3 linked regions of the Homo sapiens genome follow. The protein of the gene in region 3 purifies or fractionates together with the protein of the main gene of each other region. This does not show direct contact. Each region holds a gene or a part of one and is shown on either strand. Other genes may lie near its edges. The genes, in order: CWF19L1, HNRNPUL2 and RALY.

Region 1 (2,574 bases), on a different chromosome or scaffold from region 3:
ATAGAAGAGTTAGAAACAAATCATGAATTCTCTATAAGTCAAAGAACCTAAGCTCCCTGGGCAAACTTTGAGCCTATTTCAAATATAAAAGGAAAATAGAACTACCTTTCTTGTACAGCTGAAAAAAATATGCCATTTCAAATATTTTGTTAACTATAAAATGCTATATAACTATAAATTAGTATCTTGATAATTACTCAATATTGAAAATACATCATAAGCACAAAACCATTCAGAGAATCTTCTTTTTGTGTGCTTTATACGCCTATGTGTATCTGCAATCGTGTGCTTATGTTGTCAATGTTCATAACCGCATCTGTTGCTGAGGCAACAACGAAAACATCACGTCAGATGTCTGAATCTCGTAGCACACTTGTTCCCATTTATCTTTTTGAAAAATGTAGACAACTACATTTACTGGACTTATCTAAGGGGGCAATCTCTTGGAGGCTTTCTGAATTAGTCCAAGACAGGTTCAAGGCTCACTCAAAGCCCATTTTTAACTAGGGGAGAAAAAACAGCTGCAAATCACAGACACCAGCATCAGATACTCTGTTCTACACATTTTCCACTCCCCTTCAAACTGTATCTTCTTGCCAGCAACTTCCCATCTTCAATCTTTGCTTAAGTTATGTTACTCCCTCTATGGTTTTGCAGTCATGTTTTGCCTGATACGAGGAACAGAACTGAAGCCTCCTCTAGGCCTTTACCATACTGTAGAACACTGAGGTTAAGACCTCAAGTTTTGAGGTCCAACAGGCCTGGGTTTGAACCTACCACTGTGTGACTAGGACAAGCTACCTAAGCTCTCTACAGCCTGCTATCCAGTGGGGTAACCATTAGCCAGGTATGGCTATTTAAATTTAAATTCTAATTAATTAAATAAAATCAAAAATTTAGTTCCTCAGTCACATTAGCCACATTTCAGCACTCAGTGGCCACAAGTGGCTAGTCACAACTGTATTGGACAGTGCAGATATTTGAGCATTTCCATCGTTGTGAAAAGTCTACCGGGCACTGCTCTAGAGCCTCATTTTCCACACTGGTAAATCGGGATGACAGTACCTACCTTACAGAGTTATGAAGATTAAATGAGTCATGTATGTGTAAAGTTCTTGGTACAGTTCTTGGCACAGAGTATGTGCTCAATTAAAGTTCCCTAGCACTTCTGGCTAGAATGCCCTCACCTCAATCTTTGCCCTCTAAATATGCCTCTCAGGTTCAACTTTGCCACTTTCATGAAGGCTTTCACCAACTAGAAATGAGCTGTCCCTTTTCTGAATTTCTACAGCACATTGTTCTCCAAAACTCTGTCATGGTACTCTTCACATTCTACATTACATTACTGTCATATATGTAAACATCTGCCCTAAGACCATGGGTCCTCTGGGGCAAGGACTGTTTACAATTTAGCTTTTTATCAATTGTCCCATGTAGCCCACCACTCTGTTCATAGCAGGTCTAGTGAAAATACATTGAAAAGAAGAAAAACATACCTTCCAAACTGCAAAGGAAAATTCTTTTTAATTCTGTGGAAAAGCTTTTCTCCTGTGTCAAGTTCAACATAAAAATATGCTGCTCCTGGCTGTGCAATCTAAAGTAAACAGAGTTGTATGAGGATGTCCAATAATGCTTTAAAAATCTATAATCTGAGTTCATCTCTAGGCAAATAATTCAGTCTAAATGCACAAGAAAAAAAGATATGTATGTTGCTATAGATCCCAAGCCACTTAGTGGAACTAGGGCTTAAAAAGTCTAACTGGAAGATACTAACAATATCCTCCCAGTGGCGTCTATCCTTCTAAGTTCCTACCTTAGGAAATTCTAATTTCTTGCTCTTCCCAGGAAAGCACTAAACTTTGGAGTAATGCCCTGTTCATCTCCAGTCTAGTCAATACCCAGTGCTCTAGTTCCAAATTGTCCACTGCCTCTTTTTTTTTTTTTTTTTTTTAGAGACAGGGTCTTGCGATGTTGCCCAGGCTGAAGTACAGTGGTGCAATCATACCTCACTGCATCCTCAAACTCCTAGGCTTAAGTGATCCTCCTGACTCTCAGCCTCCTGAGTAGCTAAGACTACAGGCACATGCCACCATGCCAAGCTTATTTTTTTATTTTTTGTAGAGACAAGGTGTCTCACTTTGTTGCCCAGGCTGGTATCAAACTCCTGGCTTCAAGTGCTCCTCCCGCCTCAGCCTCCCAAAGTGTTGGATTACAGGTGTGAGCTACCATGCCCAACCCATTGCCTATTTAATAACATTTTTGGAATGCCTTGATAGCTCAACATGTCAAAAACCTTAGGCTCAACATGTCAAAAACCAGATCTTGCCAGGCGTGGGTGGCTCATGCCTGTAATACCTTCGGGAGGCCAAGGCAGGCAGATCACAAGGTCAGGAGTTCGAGACCAGCCTGGCCAATATGGTGAAACCCCGTCTCGACTAAAAATACAAAAAGTAGCCAGGTATGGTGGCGCATGCCTGTAGTCCCAGCTACTGGGGAGGCTGAGGCAGGAGAATCACTTGAACCCGGAAGGCGGAGGTTGCAGTGAGCCAAGATCATGCCACTGCACTCCAACCT
Region 2 (3,654 bases), on a different chromosome or scaffold from region 3:
AACATGTAATAAAGACAATGGAAAGAGTTGGAACTCATTTGAATTCCTGGCTCCACCACATTCTGGTTTGTGATCTTGGATAAGTCCCTTATCCTTTCTGAACCTCAGTTTCCCTGATGAGCAAAACAGGATAATACCTGTCATGTAGTTTGAAAAGTTAAAGAAGATCATGTGTATTGACCCTTTATCTCGTGTCTAAGTTGTCAAAGATACTGAGTCTTTTTTTTTTTTTTTTTTTTTTTTGAGACCGAGTCTCGCTCTGTCGCCCAGGCTGGAGTGCAGTGGCGCTATCTCGGCTCACTGCAAGCTCAGCCTCGTAGGTTCATGCTATTTTCCTGCCTCAGCCTCCCGAGTAGCTGGGACTACAGGTGCCCGCCACCATGCCTGGCTAATTTTTTGTATTTTTAGTAGAGACAGGGTTTCATCGTGTTAGCCAGGATGCTCTTGATCTCCTGACCTCATGATCTACCTGCCTCAGCCTCCCAAAGTGCTGGGATAACAGGATTATAGGCGTGAGCTGTCACGCCCGGCCTTTTTTTTTTTTTTTTTTTTTTTTTTTTGAGATGGAATCTTGCTCAGCCGCCACCCAGGCTGGAGTACAGTGGCGTGATCTCAGCCCACTGCAACCACCATCTCCTGGGTTCAAGCGATTCTTCCGTCTCAGCCTCCCAAATAGCTGGGATTACAGCACCCACCATCATGCCGAGTTAATTTTTGTATTTTAGTATAGATGAGGTTTCACCATGTTGGCCAGGCTGGTCTTGAACTCCTGACCTGAGATGATCTGCCCACCTCGGCCTCCCAAAGTGCTAGGATTACAGGCGTGAGCCACCGTGCCCAGCTGATACTGATTCTTTTGGTTAAATCTGAGTGATAATTTTCTTCCTAAACATCAGTTATTCCTCCTGTTCTTAGTGTAATGTGTACAATTCTGGCCAACGGCGGAAGCTATTGCTGTTCAAGACCTTCTCTCGGAAAGTGGTGGTGGTTGTCCCTAATGAGGAAGATTGGAAGAAGAGGCTGGAGTTGAGGAAGGAAGTAGAGGGAGATGATGTGCCTGAATCTATAATGCTGGAGATGAAAGGTGGGTGTCTTAGTCCATTTTCTGCTGCTATAACAGAATACCATAGACTTCATAATTTGTAAGTAATAGAGGTTTATTTCCCTCATTCTGGAGGCTAGGAAGTCCAAGAGCATAGCATTAGCATCTGGTGAGGTCCTTCTTGCTGCATCATTCCATGTCAGGAGGGCAAAAGGCAAGAGGGCACATGTGAGAGAACTTGCTTTTATAACAAAGCCACTTTCACAATAATGGCATTAATCTATTCATGAGGATGGAATCCTCATGACCAAATCACATTAAAAGTCCCACCCTCTCAATACTGCTCATTGGGGATTAAGTATTCAACACTTGTACTTTGGTGGGACATAACTCAAACCATAGCAGTGGGCTAAAATTGTACAAGTTAAAGAGATCTTATCCCTGGTCAGTGCACACCTTATTGAGGTCTCTTAGCAACTGGAGTGACACTCTACATCTAAAATGTAAATCTGAAGAGGAACTTAATGGTCGTGAGCACTTGTAGATAAATGAATGAACAGAGAGAAGCAATAATTTTGACTCATTGTTTTCTTGGTTTGTTTTGGTTTGGTTTTGAGACAGAGTCTCACCCTGTTGCCCAGCCTGGAGTGCAGTGGTGTGATCTCAGCTCACTGCAACGTCCACCTCCTGGGTTCAAGTGATCCTCTTGCTTCAGCCTCCCAAGTAGCTGAGATTACAAGCATGTGCCACCATGCCTAGCTAATTTTTGTATTTTTAGTAGAGATGGGGTTTCGCCATATTGCCCAGGCTGGTCTTGGAACTCCTGACTTCAGGTGATTTGCCCGCCTTGGTCTCCTAAAGTGCTTAGATTATAGGCATACGCCGCTGTGCCTAGCCGCCTTGGCTCGTTTTGAAAAAGATACAGAAAGGGAAATAGTGAGCCAGGCGCGGTGGCTGACGCCTGTAATCCCAGCACTTTGGGAGGTTGAGGTGGGTGGATTACAAGGTCAGGAGCTCACAACCAGCCTGGCCAAGATGGTGAAACCCTGTCTCTACTAAAAATACAAAAAAAATTAGTCGGGCATGGTGGTGGGCGCTTGTAATCACAGCTACTCGGGAGGCTGAGGCAGAGAATTGCTTGAACCTAGGTGGCAGAGTTTGCGGTGAGCTGGGATTGTGCCACTGCACTCCAGCCTGGACAACAGAGTGAGAAGACTCGGTCTCAAAAAAAAAAAAGTGACCGTAGGGTAATTTAAACTCAAAGGATCAAGGGAGAGGCTTCTGTGAATCAGTTATTTGTTAAGTAAATATTTCTGGTACATCTACTGTTTGTCTACATTTCTTATTCTGCTTTTTTTTTTTTTTTTTTTAAAGACAGAGTCTTGCCCTTGTCGCCCAGGTTGGAGTACAGTGGCGCGATCTCGGCTCACTGCAACCTCCGCCTCCCGGGTTCAAGCGATTCTCCTGCCTCAGCCTCTTGAGTAGCTGGGATTACAGGTGCCCGCCCAGCTAATTTTTGTACTTTTAGTAGAGACAGGGTTTCGCCATGTTGGTCAGGCTGGTCTCGAACTCCTGACCTCAGGTGATCTGCCCGCCTCGGCCTCCCAAAGTGCTGGGATTACAGGTGTGTGCCACTGCGCCTGGCCGCAGGGAGAGATTATTATGGTTCAGATTAAAATATGGCAGTTGGAGTGAATGATCTCATTGGTATAACTTGATTTCTGGTATCACGTTATGTTTGTGTTTTGTTTGTTAATTTGGCTGAAGTCTGTAATGCAATACATAAGACAGAGAGTAATGTCTACATAAGAAATATTAATATTTTGATTGATCCTCCTATTCCCTTAAAACGTGATTTTTTTTCCCATTGCTGCCTTTAGTTCCTGACATCCCACCGAGTCTAGCAACTGCTTGCTCTTCAAATACTGATAATCCCCAGGCATGGGAACTGGTTTGCATATCTATGAGCCAGATCCTCAGAGTTTACTGAGAATGAACTATGCCAGTCCATAACTCTTACTTAGGCACTCAGAGAAATGTAGCTCAGTTTTATAAAATTGAGGGCCAACTGGATTCATCTAAGAATCATGAGAGCCCCATTGAACTGAATTTCCACTGGGACTCAGCTTCTGAAGTTGACGTCCAGAGACTGGCAGATGTGCTGGCCTATCACGGACAGGTGGTAAATGAGAGCCCTTGTACTCTTGTCTTCTCTTCTCCTTGTATAGATGAGCAGATGCCTTTAGGCTTGGGTCAGTTTCTCATTGAGTCTCTCTTCTGTCAGCGAGGCCAGAGTGCAGTGGCACTCAGCCTCCCGAGTAGCTGGGATAACAGGCACCTGCCACCATGCCTGGCTAATTGTTGTATTTTTAGTAGAGACAGGGTTTCACCATGTTGGCCAGGCTGGTCTCGAACTCCTGACCTCAAGCAGTCCGCCTGCCTTGGCCTCCCAAAATGCTGGGATTACAGGCGTGAGCCACCATGCCCGGCCATCTCTGAGTCTCTTTTTAAAATGTTATTTCTTAGCATCTTATCTGACCAACACCAGAACTTTCTCAGTTACTTTTAGCCTCTGGTTACCTGCTTCTGTCCTGATGAGAAACTTTAACCCA
Region 3 (3,654 bases):
TCTGAGATAGGCAAGTGCCCCCTGCTCATTCTTCCCTCTTTCCCCCAGGACCAGAACCCCTGGGAAGGAGAGAACAGGAAGTTCACAGTGGGGGCAACCAGCTCAGGCTGCCCATTCCCCTGTTGGCCTCCTGAGAGTAGGAGCACAGTCGAGTCCCAGTCGTGCCCCTGGCCAGGCCCTCACCAGCTCTTCCTCGCTGTGTGTCAGGAGCCCTTCCTCATCGCCGTCGTCTCGGGTCCGTGCTTCCCCCTGGGGCAGGCCTGCCTCAGAAGTTGTGTTCTCTTGGGGGGCTGGTGGCCGGCTGCTGCCACCGCCACCGCCACCACCACTGCCACCGCCACCGCTGCCACCACCACCGCCGCCGCCGCCGGCGCCACCTCCATCACCCTTCTTCTTGCCATCTTGAGGGGAAGGGGTGGAGGAGGGGAGAATAAAACTCAGCCTGGGGTAGCTGTCTAGGGCAGCACCTTAGCGGAAGCTGGCCTCAGCATGGTGAGTGCAGGTGGTCCAGGATCTGCAGGGCCACCCTAGCTCCTCTCTCCCATGTACTATTTCCCCATGCTCTGCCCTGTGCCCTGGTCATGGAGGTGGGTGAGAATCCTCAGAGGCTGACCTGGATTGGCCTTTTGCTCCGCAGCGATCTGCTCCAAGCGGCTCAGCAGGGCATCGATATTGGACTTGATCTGTGTCAGCTCCGTCTTGATGGCCTGCAGCTCACTGCTCTTTACTGGGAGTGGAGGGGGGACAGGGCTGTCACCTAGGGGGCTGGAGGCTTGACACTAGCACAAAACCTCAGCCCTGTTCTTTCAACCAGGAAAGCAGTTATTTTTTGTTTTGTTTTGTTTTTTCCCTGCTTAGGAAAAAGGTCTCCTCCTTAGACTACCTGGCGTCCATCCCTACAGTGACAGCACACACTTCTGAACCTGGCTATCTTTTCTCCTGATCTCTCAACTCTGAAAGGGACCAAAGACAGACAGGAGCACAGGTGTGTATGTGTGGTGTGCTCTTCTGTGTGCACCTGAGCAAGAACATGTGTCTTTTGGAATCTGAATTCCTGGGTGATTAGTTAAGCAGCATGTGTGTACCAGAGTGAATGTGGAGTAATGGGCCTGGGTAGACCTGTCCTTATCCTTACTAGAGGAAAGATGGCACCATTTCTTCACTGGGCACCATATCCAGCACTGGACTCTCTGTGCCCAACACAACCCCTCCTCCTAAAACATCAGCTGTTTCCTCTTAGAAATGCATGAAAATACTTGGCTGTGTTAGAGCAGCAGAACTGTGGAAGACTTGTTGTTTTATCTATGTTCCAATGTAAAAAATGTGATTCTATTATTTTGCTAATGATAAAAATGCAAATTACTTAGGAATATGATACAGTCACTCACACTTGATCTTGGCTGAGCTGGTGGTGACAGCTGTGGAGCGGGCAAAGAGCTTGACAGGTACGTTAGTTTTGACACGCCGGACCAAAGGGACTGTGACCCGGGGTCGCTTCACAGGGACCGCCCTGGGCACTGGCACGGGCGACAGACGGCCCCGGTAGTCGAAGAGCCTGTGAGGGCAGATGGGCCAGAGGCTGCAGCATGGCTTGTGGCCACCAGGGCGGTATTGCAGCTCCGGCTACAAACGTGTGTGGCTGGTGAGGGGCTGGGAGGCCTGCACTACACACCTCTGCTGGCTCCTAGCAAGCCCTGGAGTGAAGAGGAAGGGCTTGCCGGACCCTGATGGCTGTTGGGATCCTCACTACCTCACTACAACCTCTCCAACCATCCAGGCCCAGTAAGGGCAGGCAAGGCATCAGGTGGTAGCAGTTATACCCCATTCAAAAGAGGAGACATCCCTAGGTCCCCTGGCACCCAGGCCTGCTCTATTACATGACCTGGCTTCTGCTTGGTCAACTGCCACCCCAACCTCTGCTCAGAGTTTGCAAATCTCAAAGCAGCACAAATCCCCAGCTAGGAATAGAGAGGTATGGGAGTGGGGGTCAACTGAGCCTACCTGAGCCTCAGTTTCCCCATATGCCAAATGAGGATGGCTATCCACATTCAGTGTCCACCCAAGGGCACAGCATGAAAGAATTCGGTTAAAAACACACTTTAGAACGTGTAATAGATGAAAGGTCAGGGTACTGAGACCCTCAATTCACGAACCCATGACCTCAGAGGCATAAGACTGAACTCTAAGCCCTTTCCTTACTTGACCTCCTTAATCACCACATCCTTCGTGCTCCATTCCAGAGACAAAGGCCAGGGGCTTGGTAGAGTATCAAGGTTGGGCAGCTCAATCAGACCCCCCCAGGGCTCCCAGGCTGTGCACTGCCCCCAACCAAAGTCATCTCCAAGCCCTCTCTAGGAGGGCTTCCTTTCCAGCTGACCAGGCAGAAACTCAGTAGGCTGAGAAGTGGTCTCTCTGACATCTGTTGCTGCCACCTTTTTCAGGGAATCGCAGCCCAGGGGGTAAACTTTGGGTCAATTTTCCTGACAACGGCCAGGAAACCTGCCATCACTGGGCAAAAGCCCCATTCCTTGGGGCTCCTTTGTTCAGGGAGCCCCTTCCTGGAGGTGGTGATGGCTGCAGATGGAGAGTCTCTGGGAATGGATCCGATCCCAGACCCTGCATTTCTGCCCCCAAGGGGAGGGAACGGCTCTGGCCTTGGTCAGAATCACTGAACCACAGAATCCCAGAGCTGGAGGAGCCTGGAGAGATCACTTGGTGCAAGCCCATTTCACAAACTGGGAAGGGAATTTGCCCAAGATCACATAATCCATTCAGTGGCAGAGCTGAGATTAGCATCTAAATCTTCTGACCCCCAGGCTAAGACACTTTCCACTACACCACACTGTCTCCTGAAACGACTCACAGGGGCGGGGTGGGGATGGGGGCGGACGACTCATGCTCAGAGAGGCACTGTTCTTCTTGGGCTGCCTGGGGTGGGCTAAGCTGGACAGAGGGAGAGAAGCAGGGAGGAGGAGAGATTTGAGTTAGTATCTACCATGATTTCTACTCAAGAATGTGGCTAGTGCTGTTGTAGTGGGAGCCCACAGCCTCTGGGCTGGAGTCTGGGTAGGGCTTGGGAGTGCAGGGTAGACCACAGCCCGCCAGGGACTAATTAGACTTCCAAATGGCTGCTGGCCTCTTGTCTCTAAATATAAACCCAAGAAGCTTAGACTGAGCTCTGGGGCTCCTACCAGCTGCTTGGGCACCTCACAGAGGGAAGGGCTCAAACTCCCTGCAACCAGCGCTGTACCCTGTTGTGTATTCCAACTAGCCACACTTACATAGCTCTTGGCTGTACGGTCTCCTTGAGCCTCACCCAAGGACAAGAAGGAAAAAGGGCAGTTAGCATGGCAGACAGTGTTGTATGGTGGTAGGAGCTCTGGCCTGAGCACCTGCAGCACAGGACCCCAGTCTCAGCTCTGCTACCGACTGGTGGAGCAACCCCAGGCAAACCTCTGGGTTTTGGTTCTCATTTGGAGAACTCAGTGGGCTGCACCAACAATCTCTCAAGACCCTTCCAGCTTGGCTGTTTCATGCCTGGGCACGCCCCTCCCCTGCTCACCTGTCGTAGAAGTCGTCCCGGTAGTAATCATAGTCAAAGATGTAGCCACTGGGGAAACAAAGGGGAGAGGGCTGGAGCTTAGGGACGGCCAC

Evidence for each region.
Region 1: the proteins of RALY (region 3) and CWF19L1 purify together in Homo sapiens (affinity purification with mass spectrometry; one large-scale study listed by BioGRID and IntAct). This does not show direct contact.
Region 2: the proteins of RALY (region 3) and HNRNPUL2 purify together in Homo sapiens (affinity purification with mass spectrometry; 2 studies listed by BioGRID and IntAct, with this or other methods). This does not show direct contact.

The regions. Positions count from the first base shown.
Region 1 is NC_000010.11:100,234,171-100,236,744, forward strand, and holds part of CWF19L1 (CWF19-like protein 1), read right to left. Parts: intron 1,595-2,574; coding exon 1,497-1,594; intron 908-1,496; exon of another isoform or gene 1-907.
Region 2 is NC_000011.10:62,717,453-62,721,106, reverse strand, and holds part of HNRNPUL2 (heterogeneous nuclear ribonucleoprotein U-like protein 2), read left to right. Parts: intron 1-915; coding exon 916-1,084; intron 1,085-3,654.
Region 3 is NC_000020.11:34,073,775-34,077,428, reverse strand, and holds part of RALY (RNA-binding protein Raly), read right to left. Parts: intron 3,611-3,654; coding exon 3,563-3,610; intron 1,556-3,562; coding exon 1,389-1,555; intron 728-1,388; coding exon 614-727; intron 402-613; coding exon 184-401; intron 1-183. UniProt on the Homo sapiens protein: RNA-binding protein that acts as a transcriptional cofactor for cholesterol biosynthetic genes in the liver. Binds the lipid-responsive non-coding RNA LeXis and is required for LeXis-mediated effect on cholesterogenesis.